Homo sapiens: one gene and its partners. The protein of the gene in region 3 purifies or fractionates together with the protein of the main gene of each other region. This does not show direct contact. Each region holds a gene or a part of one and is shown on either strand. Other genes may lie near its edges.

Region 1 (2,350 bases), on a different chromosome or scaffold from region 3:
CTTGCTTCGGCCCTGTTTTGCAACAAGGTAATAAACAGCCAGAACAGACTGGAGTGAAGCAGGTTAAGGGTGAGGAGAGAACACAGTGCAGTGCAGGGTGTGGAAGGCAGCTCACAGTCAGGGAGGCAGCAGTTCTAGCCAATCAACACTTTATTTTTCAAGTCAACACCTGCACAGATGTTAGTGTCCACTTCCTGACCCTAGTAGGGGGTCCCACTACACTTGGATCACCCAGAGGAGCAGTAAGGAAGCTCCTAATCTCAAGAGAGAGCACATGCTCACCAACTCCAGTGCTGGCGCCATGTACTGCGGGATCCCTGCTCTCCTGCATCATGAAAGGCCGGGCTGAATGGGGCAAGGATGCAGTGAAGGTTACACAGACTACAGTGACCTAAGAGTGTAACTACTGGCCTGACCCACTGCCCCAGGTTTACTCTTTACTTCCCAGACCAGGAGCCTCCCTAAAGCTTGGCCAGTGCCCACGGGATAGGAGGAGCTGGCAAAGGATGGGGTTGAGCTGCTAAGGACAGGACACAGCAGGGAAATAAAGCAGAAAGGAACACAAGACAAGAGAAAAATTATAAAGTGCCTCAACTAAACAACCAAGTGGGACATGAGGGCAGAGCAGCACAGGTCCCTGAGGATAGGAGGAAAAAGAAAGGGCCAGACCACCAGGGCTTGGGGCATAGTGGAATGAGAATAGAGATGAGGCAGGGAGGCAAGCGCAGGCTGTGGGAAGGACTTCCCTAGCCCTGTTCACATCCACTAACCCAAATGGAAAATTATTTACAAATTTAAAACCAATCCTAGGCACAGGTACTGCACCATGCCCAGGACAGCAGGCAGGCAGGCAGGCAGAGGGTGGAATAGCTACCATCCGACAGCCAGCTTCCCCACACACTGCCCCACCCCAGAGTGGTAGGCAAAGGAGGAAACAGCAACACTCCTAGCCAGGAAGCCCTACTGTGCCTGCAGCTCCTTCCTCAACGGCTGGCTCATGGCTCTGCCACGGCCTGAGCTTCTTGGTCTGACTGTACCAGAGAATGGATGTCGGGCCCCAGGGGTGGAGCATCAGGGGGTTTTGGCGGTGTCTCTGGCTCCAAGCCCAGCTCTGCATTCAGCTGCTCCAGCTCCCCCTGATCCAGCAACTCAAAGTCCTCAGTGGTGAGTGCCTCTTCTTCCTCAGGGGCAGGCAGGGGCTGGGGTGAGTCCTGGGGAACAGGTGGGAGAATGGAAGGGGAGGGGGCTGGGTCACTTCCAACAAGGCAAAGTGGAGGTGACAGGGTGCCGGGCAGAGCAGTGAGGCCACCACTCACTGTCTCGGGGCTCAGTGTCTCCACTGGTCCTCCAGGGGAGCATTTCACTCCATCTGGGGGGGACCCTGCCCCATTGAAGTGCGTGTTCACAAAGTGGAGGGGGGATGAGAGCCGCAACAAGGTTTCCTTAGCTGCCACATCCTCTTCCTCTTCCTCCGAGTCCAGGGCTTGCCTTGACAGAGCTTGAGGACGGCCTAGTAGGTCTTCGGGAGGGGCCAGCTCTCCCTCCTCTCCCTCCCCTAGGTCCCGGCTTAGGGTCTCCTCTGGTTCACTTGGCAGGCTCTGCTGGTCCAAATCTGTGCAGAGAACAAAGAATTAAGAATGGGCCTGCTGCTGGTCTGATTAGCCACAACAGACAATGAGTTCAAGGATGAGAACTCAAGACATGGAAAGCTGGGCCAAGCCTTAGGTGTTAAGGTCTTTTAGGAGCTGAGAGAATTAGAGAGTGAGTGGGCCAGAGAGCACAGTAAGTACCCATGGTAGGGAACACAAAGATTGTGGCGGGGAGCAGGGCAGCAAAGGGCTCCCCATACCCTCGGAGACATCAGTCAGCTGCGGAGTTGTGGCCCGGGATACGGAGAAGCCACCACTCTCCAAGATAGAAGCCTCCTCATCTGACAGCTCTGAGTCTGTAATGGCCAAGGCCAATGCTGTTTTCTTCACATCCACCTGGCAGGAGAACCAGGATGAACACGACATGTGAGGGGATAAGAGAACCAATTTATCAGGAGCATCCCCTCTCCCAAAACCTCTGGCTTCCACCTCCTTTGGAGGTGGCAGCTCCAAAGCAGAAAGATTTTTCCTCTGGCTTTCTATTTGACACCCCCGCTTTCCCTGGACCTCACCACTGGGGAGAAGCCAGCCAGCTCTGCCTCGCTTTCACTCTCTGTCTCTGCCAGTGGCTCATCACCTCCTGGGGGTGCATTCTTCCCCTGACGCTCTAGAAAAGCAAGAGTAGTAGAGCAATGACCAAGCATGAATGATGGGAGGGGAGACAAACACAGCTAAAGAACTGGAGAAGATCTCAATTCCAG
Region 2 (3,500 bases), about 29 Mb from region 3:
GGGTCTCACTATGTTACCCAGGCTAGTCTCGAACTTCTGGGCTCAAATGATCCCCCCGTCGTGGCCTCCCAAAGTGCTGGGATCACAGGTGTGAGCCACTGTGTCCAGCCAACACTAAATCTGGTACTTTACCTTATAGTAAAAATGAATAAGATAAAATTCCCTGCCAGCACCAATTCACAGTCAAATTTTCTTGTTGAGAAATTGTAAGAGTCCAAATGTATTACAGTGTTGATATCTTACCTTTTCTTTTTGCTTATGATCATATCCATGGTTTGCAGCAGTCGCCGTTCCAGGGCTAGAATATCCGTGTCAGTCACATTCCTACAAAAAGCACAAACTGCTAGCAAAATGTTTTGGGGTCCCACTCTTGGGCATGATACAGGGTATCTGGAGACAAACATAGACTTCAACTGTTACCTACTACTTTTTTCTAGAAAATAGTAAAATGACCATAATAAACTAAAATGCCTTTGCTCTCATTTCTTATAGCTAATCCTCTGGGATCTCAGGGAAATGGAATTCACCCAGCTCTCTTACAGTTTTTCTTAGCTTTGATCCAGTTACATTTATATATATATATAAAATATATATTTAAATATTTTTATTTTATTTTTTATTATACTTTAAGTTCTCGGATACATGTGTAGAACATGCAGGTTTGTTACATAGGTATACACGTGCCATGATGGTTTGCTGCACCCATCAACCCGTCATTTATTTATGAAAGAGTCTAGCTCTGTCGCCGAGGCTGGAGTGCAGTGGCATGATCTCAGCTCAGTGACATTTAGGATGTATGTTTAAGCACACTTTTAACTTGGCATTGTCTTCTACTGTTCTGTTAATATCTAGGAGGGGAGCTGAACTGCTGAAGTTGGAGTTGGTTTATACTGCTGGTCACTAGAAATGTGCCTTTAAAAAAGTGGGAGGGGAGTGTCAGATTGAAATTTGCCATTTAAAAAATAAATGAATGTAGGACAAATAATAAAGGCAAGCCGTACAAGTGATAATACTTATTTAGAAAGATTTCCAGGTCAATGCCCACAGGGACAGAGGAAGAGAAGAATAAAAAGACAGTGTCATAGATCTAATATATAATCTTAAAGATGGTGGCATAATATGACATATGTATTCAAGAAGTAATGGGGCAAAAAAGAAAGGATGCAAAGCGCTCTGTTACCTGAGGAAGTAAGACATGTAAGTGTATGGGCAGTTGACAGCACCAAATCCAGAAAGAAGAGCCATGAGAGTCACTCCAATCACACCAACCCGGCTGATGAGCTGTTCTATGGATAAGATCCCTAAAAACATCAAGGCACATTAATGCCAGGTAATATAGACAAAATGGCTCTCATCTGTACTGCAAAAGGAAACATTATTTAAAACATTAACCATTACACATAACTAACTCATACAAGCCAACTTTTAATTATTAATGTGTAGATGATTTATAATAAATATACTAAAAGTTTACTGATTTTCCTCCTGTCCCATATGCTTCAGAGTGATCTCTTTTATTGGGTGATAGCAGTAAAATAATAACAACAATAATTATAAATAACAATCATTGACTGTTTACTCTTGGTAGCATGAATGCTAACAAAGCAAAGTACTTTTAGTAAAAGCATCGGCCAAAAAAAAAAAAACTAAGAAAGTAAATCTGCTGGAAAAGTATAAATAGCAGGAACTACTTTGTGCTAATTATCTTTGATATATATGTATTTCCCCTAAGGTGATACTCTTTTGCTTTTGTCTTATTCTTTTTTGCATCCAATAAACACAGAATTCATCTAATAAAAGGACTAAACTTATAGATGAATGAGTAATTCAAAGGCAAACACATCAGTTTCGGATTATAAATTGTATCCTAATTATCAATTGTTTCATATCACGTGAGAATGCTGAAAATCAACTTAGCAGTTAAAATAAATACTGCTGGTTGATGTATTTGGGATAAATGAGAGAAAGCAATGCTGAAGAATAACTCAGTAAGTTTGGCATTGCAGAAAAAGAATGGTTTTAACTGGTTTTCACTTTCTATTTCTAGGATAGAATTCACTACAGCCATCCACTCCTATGGTCAAATGCCAGAGCTATAATTCAGGAATTCTGTCAGCTTCAAAACTGAAAATTCCAATATTCCTTTTCTGACTACTGGCCTCCATTCCTAGTCTTTCTATTTCCACTACACTCGTTTTAGAGGTCAGTGCAACCTCTGGTCTTCTGCTTCTCCATTCTTCACCTAGCTTGGACTCCAGGCTTGCTGGCTTCAAATTCTCTCACCAGGAGCCTCAATCTCCTACTATCTTCCTTCTGAAGCGCTAATCCTACAAATTCCCAACTCTGGATCAGTCTAACACTCTGCCTTCCCTGTGCCCATGTTTTGCTGCCTCAAATTGCTAGAATGCGTACTGATTTTGGAGCCATTACAAATGTATGGTCTCCAGTCCTAAGAGAGCTCTCACACTATTGACTAATCCTTATCTTGCCCTTGGTCAGCCATCTCTCTCCATTGTCTTCGGCAGTTACTCTTTATTTTTCCTACCTTTGTCCTTCTCCTTTGCCAATGTCCTTATTATAAAAGACATAGCTATTAGCCATAAACTACCTTCACTCTACACTATGGTCATGAATTTTCTCCTGGTTGCAAAATTCAACATTTTCCAATCTTTGTTTTATGGGCTGTTTTATAACATTGAATATACATCTGCAATCATCCTCCCAACTTGTCTCCCTTAGAACAAAGTAGCATCCAAAGCTGACTTCTCCACTTGTGCTTCTGATCTTCTCTGGGCCCTGGGAACTGTCTCATCCTTATATGTGAGTTCTGGGATATTGCTAGTGATAATCTTGGTGCTATTTGTTTTTGGTTTTCTGCCAGGGGGGTAAGCAAAGCCAGCTTGCCCCTACGCCACCATCTTGGAACTAGCAGTCACCATACTTTTGATTGTATTCAATCCCTTCCACCTCTTTCAGAGTCTTGTTCCATCATCTGTCTCCTCTCTCTTGTATATTCAATATTTCCTTCTTTGCTAGTTCTTTCTCTTTAGTTTCAATTCTCTTTTCTAAGAGAAATTCTGTTCTTGGCTTCGAGTTTACGTCTAGTTACCAACCCCCATCTATTTCCTCCTTAATAGCCAGGCTTCTTAAAAGAAGTTTATAGTTATTGTCACCTTTTCTTCACCTCCAGTTCATTCCTTAACTGACTGCAATCCAGCTTTCTTCCCATTCTTCTTTATTGAATGAAATTACTTTCACTAGTAATTGTAATGGCAATAGGTAATATTCACCAAGCACCTGCTATGACTAGGCACTGTTCTAAGCATTTCACATGTTCTAATTCATTTAACCCTCATAACAATCCTATGAGGTAGATATTATTGAAAACCTAATTTTACAGATGAAGAAATGGAGGCACAGAGAGGTTAAGTAACTTAGTTAAGGCCACACAGATAAAAGGGGCAGAGTCAGGATTCAAGTGCAGTCTAGCTCCAGAGTCT
Region 3 (3,673 bases):
TTTATTTTATTTATTTATTTTTAAAAAGGGCATTCTAAGTACCCTTAAGAGTAATACCTCACTGCTGGGTGAGTATCCTGCATCTGCATTACAATTACTAGTGGGTTTTCTTAAAGAAAAACAAAGCTTTACTATAGCAAAAAAAAGACATCACTTTTAAGCACATGAACTAATTTAAAAGGAACCAGATAAAAATGTTTCCAAAAGCCATTAAAAATATTTAATAAGCTACCAGATTGCTTTGCTGGAAGAAATACATTATTTAACATCATGGATGCTCTATACAGTAGATTCTTTCAATAGCTAAGACACTTCTAAAGTAAGGTACCAATGGATGCAGATCAAGAAAAAGAGAGAAAAAAAACAGGAGACTGTTAGGAAACCAGGGAAAAGCAAATGTCATTTTACCCAGAAGAAACAAAAATACTGTTTCTATTTGTTTATAGCAGAAAAACTGTGCTGCAGAGAACATTATAAAAACACAAGCAAAGGGGTTGTTTGGCAAATAATAAAATGCAATGCTTACTGTGCATCCTCCATGAAGAGATCACTTATGGATTATAGATTAGTGTGATTAAAGGTACACTTTGATGCAAAAGATTATACTTTACCACATATATAATATGTAGCACTTTTCTACAAAGGGCAGTTTATGTAAGTAATAACTTCCACAAAGAGTGAGAGAAACATAGACAAAATGAGAAAGACAGAGGCAGGGTACAGTCAGACAGAAAGACAGAAATGCTGAGCCAAGGGGCTTGCTCATGTCCTGCAGAAGATTTGAGATATTCTTTTTCATCTCAGTGCTTAATTTTTCCTATTACTGCACACTAATACTCACATGCTATAATTATTTCATGAGCTAACCCTCTATACATCCTTCCCTTTAGTTTCTTCCATGAAAAAGAAAAAAAAAGAGAGAAACCTTTAGTCTCATACTTCATTTTACAGTCAACTATTCAAGTAAATATTTCTCTGATGGCAAATTTCCAGATGAATCTAGAATATGATCCAAAACCACTGTCAGATTACATTTGATTTACTATGTAGCTCTCTTCAAATGGAGCAAGAATTAGCCCGTTTCCTAGGTTTGGGTTCTTGTGCTTCCTGATCCTTCACACACATACAGGATGTGCACATTGTCTCAGACAGTCTTCGGAGGCCTAGCCGGAAAACGCTGTTGGAGAGGCTGTATATTACACAGTTACAAAAACTATTACTTATTGCAAGCCAGGTTGTTAAGAAGGACAGAGTTGGATTGTCCAAGACCCGGGAGCTTTCTAGAAGAAAGTAAATTATATAGGGGAGCCACAGCATATAAAATACACTGGTTATCCTAAACAAAACCATGGCGTAGCGACGGTCAGGGCTGTGTCCAGTCTCTCTGGAAGAATCTACCTCATGACTAGGGAATCGGGCTCTTCGGTCATTTATCTCTTTGGTGTGCTGACGGCAAATTTTGAAAATGTGGAAGTAAGTGAAGCAGACAACAAAGGCAGCAGGAGCATAAAGTAAACAAACAATAAAGCCAGTAAAATAGGCACTGGTGAGCCAAGACGTGGCACACCATTCAAAAATGTCACCATGGTAACCAGGTTTCCCCCAGCCAAAAAAGGAAGGCAAGAAAATTAGGCAGGAGTAGATCCAGATCAAAATAATGCAAATTCTCAAGCGACAAGGGGTGACCAGTTGATTGTAGGAAAGAGGCTTGGTTATTGCAAGATAACGATCCACACTGATGCAAGCAAGACATGCCATAGAAACACTTTTTAGAACTGAGATGATATATCCAAAAACCTGGCAAGTCAATGACTCGTGGACACCTGTGGAGTAGTGGAGAAGTGACAGAGTAGGAACCAAGCAGCTAACTCCAACGAAAAGATCAGCATATGCCATCGTCTGAATGAAATAGCTGGTAGTATAATGATGTAACAGTGGAGCACAATGAAAGACAAAGATAACTGTTAGATTCCCAGCAATGATCAGAAATGTCAGCAACACAATAACCACTGTCTCGAAGATGCAGACATCCACCACACTGTAGTGGCCAAATCCAAGTGGGCAGGAGTGACGCTCGGACACATTCACAATGCCACTGCTCATGTTCAGGATCCTCCATTCAGTCCACCTGGATTCATTCATGGCTTGGAAATTTAAAGACACCTGCAGACTTGGCTACAGCAAGCAGATGCCCTGCCCAGCATCTGTTAAACACCGCACATGAGTGTTTCAGAACCTGCTTCAGTAGACAGTGTCAGTGCTTCTGTCACAGCTGAGAGTCCCAGAGAGTGCTCAAGTCTCTTCACCAGCCTCAGTTCAGCAGTGACACACCTCAGCTTTCGGGCGGGGGGGTGGGGGGGGGGCGGTAAGGGGTGGAGAGAAGGGGATAAGCTAGAAAGGAGGTGAAAAGAGGTCACTAATTAGTTTCCTCTGGTGCCCTCAAAGAACTTTTTGCAGACATAAGGCACTTCTAGAGAAAATAGACTTCTTATTATCTTGCACTATGAAAAATTAAATCTGTAAAAAGAAAAAAAATGAATTGCCAAAGGAAGAAAAGCTTCTGTGGGCTGTTCTCCTAAGAGAGGCAGTTTCTTAGGGAGCAACTGGAAAGAATGAGAAAAGAAAAACTCTGAAACTGTCTCAGGCTTCCTGCTTTATCTATGATGAAAAATGCATTCATATTTTAGATTTTAAATAATTTAAGATCTCAAATTTGGTTGAAAAGCTAAGAAAAAGTTCATTGTGGCAAAGAGTGTCTTTGGGCTTAGTTCAGGGATTGATGTTGGGGGGTCAAATTTATAACCTATTTCTCATTTTTCTAAAATCTAAGAAAAACAACTCTATCAAAGTTAATTTGAAAAGATTCATCTCTACATGGGCAGAATAGAGGTAACAAACAGACTCCAGATTGCCCTATAACTCTCATGAGAAAAAAGTATTTTCCAATAGAAAAGAGAATATACAATGAATTAATGAATTAACACCTGGCAAAATGTAATAAACTTCTGAAGTTTTAATTCTGCATGCATTTTTAAAGCATTTAGATGAAAGCAGTTTTAATCCATTACAGTTACTGGTGGTACTAACAGCAACGTAACTTATACCTCTTCCTTTTCAAAATGAATTATTTTTGCTATTAATTTGGCATCTATAACTTAAAATAACATTTGTTATTTCATATACCACCTTCCTTATAATGGAGCATGATAATAAAATATGTAGCTCACAGTTATTTCTCACCTTTGCAACTGTATACCCATATCTCACATATATATGTAAATATAAAGTTAGACAATAAAACTTTCCAATATACTCCGAGCTTATTTGACCAGAAATGCTGCCATTATTTATTACTTAGGTATTTCTAATAGGCTTCATGTTCTATGTTGCTATACCTTTTCTATTTTCAGTAGATGATTTAACACATTAAATCATTACTTCAACTATATCTTCTGAAAGTGGAAAATTACCTTGTTTATTACATTTGCAGTTATGTAGCAGCCATATGTTAAAAAATGCCTCTTCTATTTTTCTGTACTCTATTTTGAGCAAGTGCTCAATTAACACAGGGGCCATTAGGTAGGTTGCAAGATAGTCTTATTTTAAAATACCTCTAAAGTATCAAGATGAACTTTAAATCCTAGAGTTTGAAACATTGCAAGGCTGCCAGGAT
Region 4 (3,500 bases), on a different chromosome or scaffold from region 3:
GGCCAGTGCTTGTTTAGCCGCTAGAAAAAAAGAAACACCTTGAGGCAGTTAGAACCAGTTTATTCTTTAAGGGGATGCTTTACTTAACCCTTGCCTGGCATGGCCCTACATTTTGTTCACAGTTGGGTATTTTATTGCCACAAAGAGTCTGTTCTCTCAGTCTTCAGATCTCTATTTTAACATTAATGCTGGTCAGCTGTGTTTAAACCTCAAAAGGGAGGGGGTATACTGAGGCGTGTCAGATGTCCCATCCCATTCTGGTTGGGAATTCAGTTTTTAAGGTTTCCTGGGGTCCCCTTAGCCAAGAGAGGGTATACTCAGTTAGCTGGCAGCCTTAGGATTTCATAGCTAGCTCTCAAAAGAAAGGAAATCAATCATTACTACCTGATACTAATAGCCAAAGTCAAATATGATCACTAAAGCAACTGACAAGAGAACTATGAGATATTCATAATACAAAAGACAAAATTATTACATGAGTATTTAAAAGTTAAACACTAGGCTGGGCGCGGTGGCTCACGCCTGTAATCCCAGCACTTTGGGAGGCCGAGGCGGCAGATCACGAGGTCAAGAGATTGAGACCATTCTGGCCAACATGGTGAAACCCCGTCTCTACTAAAAGTACAGAAATTAGCTGGGTGTGGTGACGCTCGCCTGTAGTCCCAGCTACTCGGGAGGCTGAGGCAGGAGAATTGCCTGAACCCGGGAGGCGGAGGTTGCAGTGAGCCTTGAGATTGTGCCACTGCACTCCAACCTGGCGACAGAGTGAGACTCCATCTCAAAAAAAAAAAAAAAAAAAAAAGTTAAACACTATATTGTACAAAAAAATTAATTCAAAATGGATCAGACCTAAACCTAAGAGCTAAAACTATACAACTCTTAGAGGAAAACCTTCATGATGCCAGTTGGTGATGATGCCAGTTGGTGATGAATTCTTGGATATGACACAAAAAAACACAGGCAACAAATGAAAAAATAGATCAATTGGACTACAAAATTAAAAACTTTTGTGCATCAAAGGACACTAGCAATAGAGTAAAAAGGCAACCCTACAGAATGGGCGAGAAGTGTTTGCAAATCACATGTCTGATAAGGGGTTAATATTCAGAATATATAAAGAACTCCTAAAACTAAACAACAAAAATCAAGCAACTCAATTCAAAAACAGGCAAAGAACAGATATTTCTCCAAAGAAGATGTCCATATAGTCAATAAGCACATGAAACAATGCTGAACTTCACTTATAATTAGGGAAATGCAAATCAAATCCAGCATCAGATACCATTTCACATCCATTTTAAAAAAAAGAAGAAAAACAGAAAACAATGTGTGTTGGTGAAGATGCGGAAGAACCAGAAACTCTGGCTCCTTGCTAGTGGGAATATAAAATGGTACAGCCTCTGTGGAAAATGGTATGGCAGTTCCTCAAAAAAATTAAACATAGAGGCCGGGCGTGGTGGCTCACGCCTGTAATCCCAGCACTTTGGGAGGCTGAGGCGGGCGAATCACGAGGTCAGGAGATCAAGACCTTCCTGGCTAACATGGTGAAACCCCGTCTCTACTAAAAATACAAAAAGTTAGCTGGGCGTGGTGGCGGGTGCCTGTAGTCCCAGCTACTCGGGAGGCTGAGGCAGGAGAATGGCATGAACCGGGGGGGCGGAGCTTGCAGTGAGCCGAGATTGAGTCACTGCACTCCAGCCTGGGAAACACAGCGAGACTCTGTCTCAAAAAAAAAAAAAAAAAAAATTAAACATAGAATTATCATATGATCCAGCAATTCTACTTCTGAATTGAAAGCAGGGACTCTAATAGATATTTGCATACCCATGATCACAGCAGCATTATTCACAATAGCCAAAAACAGAAACAACTCAGGTCAATTGATGAATGAATGGGTAAGCAAAATACAGTATACACAAAAAGAAAATATTATTCAGCCTGAACAAATTCTGGGCCAGGCACGTTGGCTCCCGCCTGTAATCCCAGCACTTTGGGAGGCCAGGGTGGGTGCATCACTTGAGGCCAGGAGTTCAAGAACAGCCTGGGCAACATAGCAAAAACCCCATCTCTACAAAAAATTAAAAAATGAGGCCAGGCACAGTGGCTCACACCTGTAATCCCAGCACTTTGGGAGGCTGAGGCAGGTGGATCACCTGGGGTCAGGAGTTCAAGACCAGCCTGGCCAACATGGTGAAACCCATCTCTACTAAAAATACAAAAATTAGCCAAGTGCGGTGGCGCATGCCTGTAATCCCAGCTACTCGGGAGGCTGAGGCAGGAGAATTGCTTGAACCAGGGAGGGAGAGGTTGCAATGAGCCGAGATCACGCCACTGCACTCTAGCCTGGGCAACAGAGAAAGACTCTGTCTCAAAAAAAAAAAAGAAAGAAAAAGAAATTTTGACACATGCTACAACACAGGTGAACTTTGAAGGCATTATGCTAAGTGAAATAAGCCAGATAGAAAAGGACAAATATTGTATGGTTCAACTGGGAATAGTCAGATTCATATAGGCAGAACCAGCAGCTGGAGAGAGTGAAGAATGGAGAGTTACTGTTTCATGGGTATCAAGTTTCAGTTGATGAAAAAGATCTGGAAATGGATAGTGGTGGTGGTTGCACAACAATGTGAATGTATTTAACGCCACTGAACTGTATATTTAGATATGGTAAATTGCATGTTATATATATATATCTTATTATGATAAAAAAGTTAAGCAATTATAGCATTATGTAGCAAAATCAGAAAGAATTGAATAATTTTAAAAATTGGCAACAGGTCTTAGAGAAAAAGTATTTACATTCACTCTAAATATAAATCATTTGAGAAAGAAATGCCAAAGACTGGGAACCCTGAGCCTGGTCACTGTCTGCGCTGGTTCTGTAGAAGATGGAGTAGACTCAACCAGCCAGGGGTACTGGGTTGAGGGAAACAGGTGAGGAGAGTCAGAACTAAAGAACTCCATAATCGGTACCAAAACCGTTTTCAGGGGAGTAGACGAAGCTCTGGACTGTTTTACAATGTGTCCCTTTCTCAACCCAAATTCTAGAATATCTAATTAATTAAAAGTAAAGCCAAAGAGCAGGAGGATCACTTGAGCCCAGGAGACAGGTCTGGGCAACACGGTGAGACCTCACCTCTACAAAAAATTAAAAGATTAGCTGGGTCTGTTAGTGCACACCTGTATGATTCAAGCCTGTAGTCCCAGCTACTTGGGAAGCTGAGGTGGGAGGATCGCCTGAGCCTTGGAAGTCAAGGCTGCAGTGAGCCATGATTGCGCCACTGCACGACAGCCTGGTCAACAGAGGGAGAACCTGTCTCAAATTTTAAAAAATAATAAAACTAAAGACAAATAGACCAATAAAACCACATAAAGTCCAAAATTAAACCCTATGAATATACAGTTACCTATCTGTGACAAAAGTCCTAAATAGTGCTGAAGCAATTGGACATTCCTGTGGGAGAAAAAAATATGACTCCTACCTTGCACCAGACACAAAA

What was found. The genes of interacting proteins can lie anywhere in the genome.
Region 1: the proteins of GPR52 (region 3) and RETREG2 purify together in Homo sapiens (affinity purification with mass spectrometry; 2 studies listed by BioGRID and IntAct, with this or other methods). This does not show direct contact.
Region 2: the proteins of GPR52 (region 3) and GPR89A purify together in Homo sapiens (affinity purification with mass spectrometry, with the first as the bait; 2 studies listed by BioGRID). This does not show direct contact.
Region 4: the proteins of GPR52 (region 3) and LMBR1 purify together in Homo sapiens (affinity purification with mass spectrometry; 3 studies listed by BioGRID and IntAct, with this or other methods). This does not show direct contact.

Annotation. Positions count from the first base shown.
Region 1 is NC_000002.12:219,181,275-219,183,624, reverse strand, and holds part of RETREG2 (reticulophagy regulator 2), read right to left. Parts: intron 2,257-2,350; coding exon 2,162-2,256; intron 1,986-2,161; coding exon 1,850-1,985; intron 1,613-1,849; coding exon 996-1,612; 3' UTR 1-995. UniProt on the Homo sapiens protein: Endoplasmic reticulum (ER)-anchored autophagy regulator which exists in an inactive state under basal conditions but is activated following cellular stress.
Region 2 is NC_000001.11:145,628,488-145,631,987, reverse strand, and holds part of GPR89A (Golgi pH regulator A), read right to left. Parts: intron 1,302-3,500; coding exon 1,181-1,301; intron 325-1,180; coding exon 244-324; intron 1-243. UniProt on the Homo sapiens protein: Voltage-gated channel that enables the transfer of anions such as iodide, chloride, bromide and fluoride which may function in counter-ion conductance and participates in Golgi acidification.
Region 3 is NC_000001.11:174,446,581-174,450,253, reverse strand, and holds GPR52 (G-protein coupled receptor 52), read right to left. Parts: upstream 2,291-3,673; 5' UTR 2,143-2,290; coding exon 1,057-2,142; 3' UTR 709-1,056; downstream 1-708.
Region 4 is NC_000007.14:156,886,684-156,890,183, forward strand, and holds part of LMBR1 (limb region 1 protein homolog), read right to left. Parts: intron 1-3,500. UniProt on the Homo sapiens protein: Putative membrane receptor.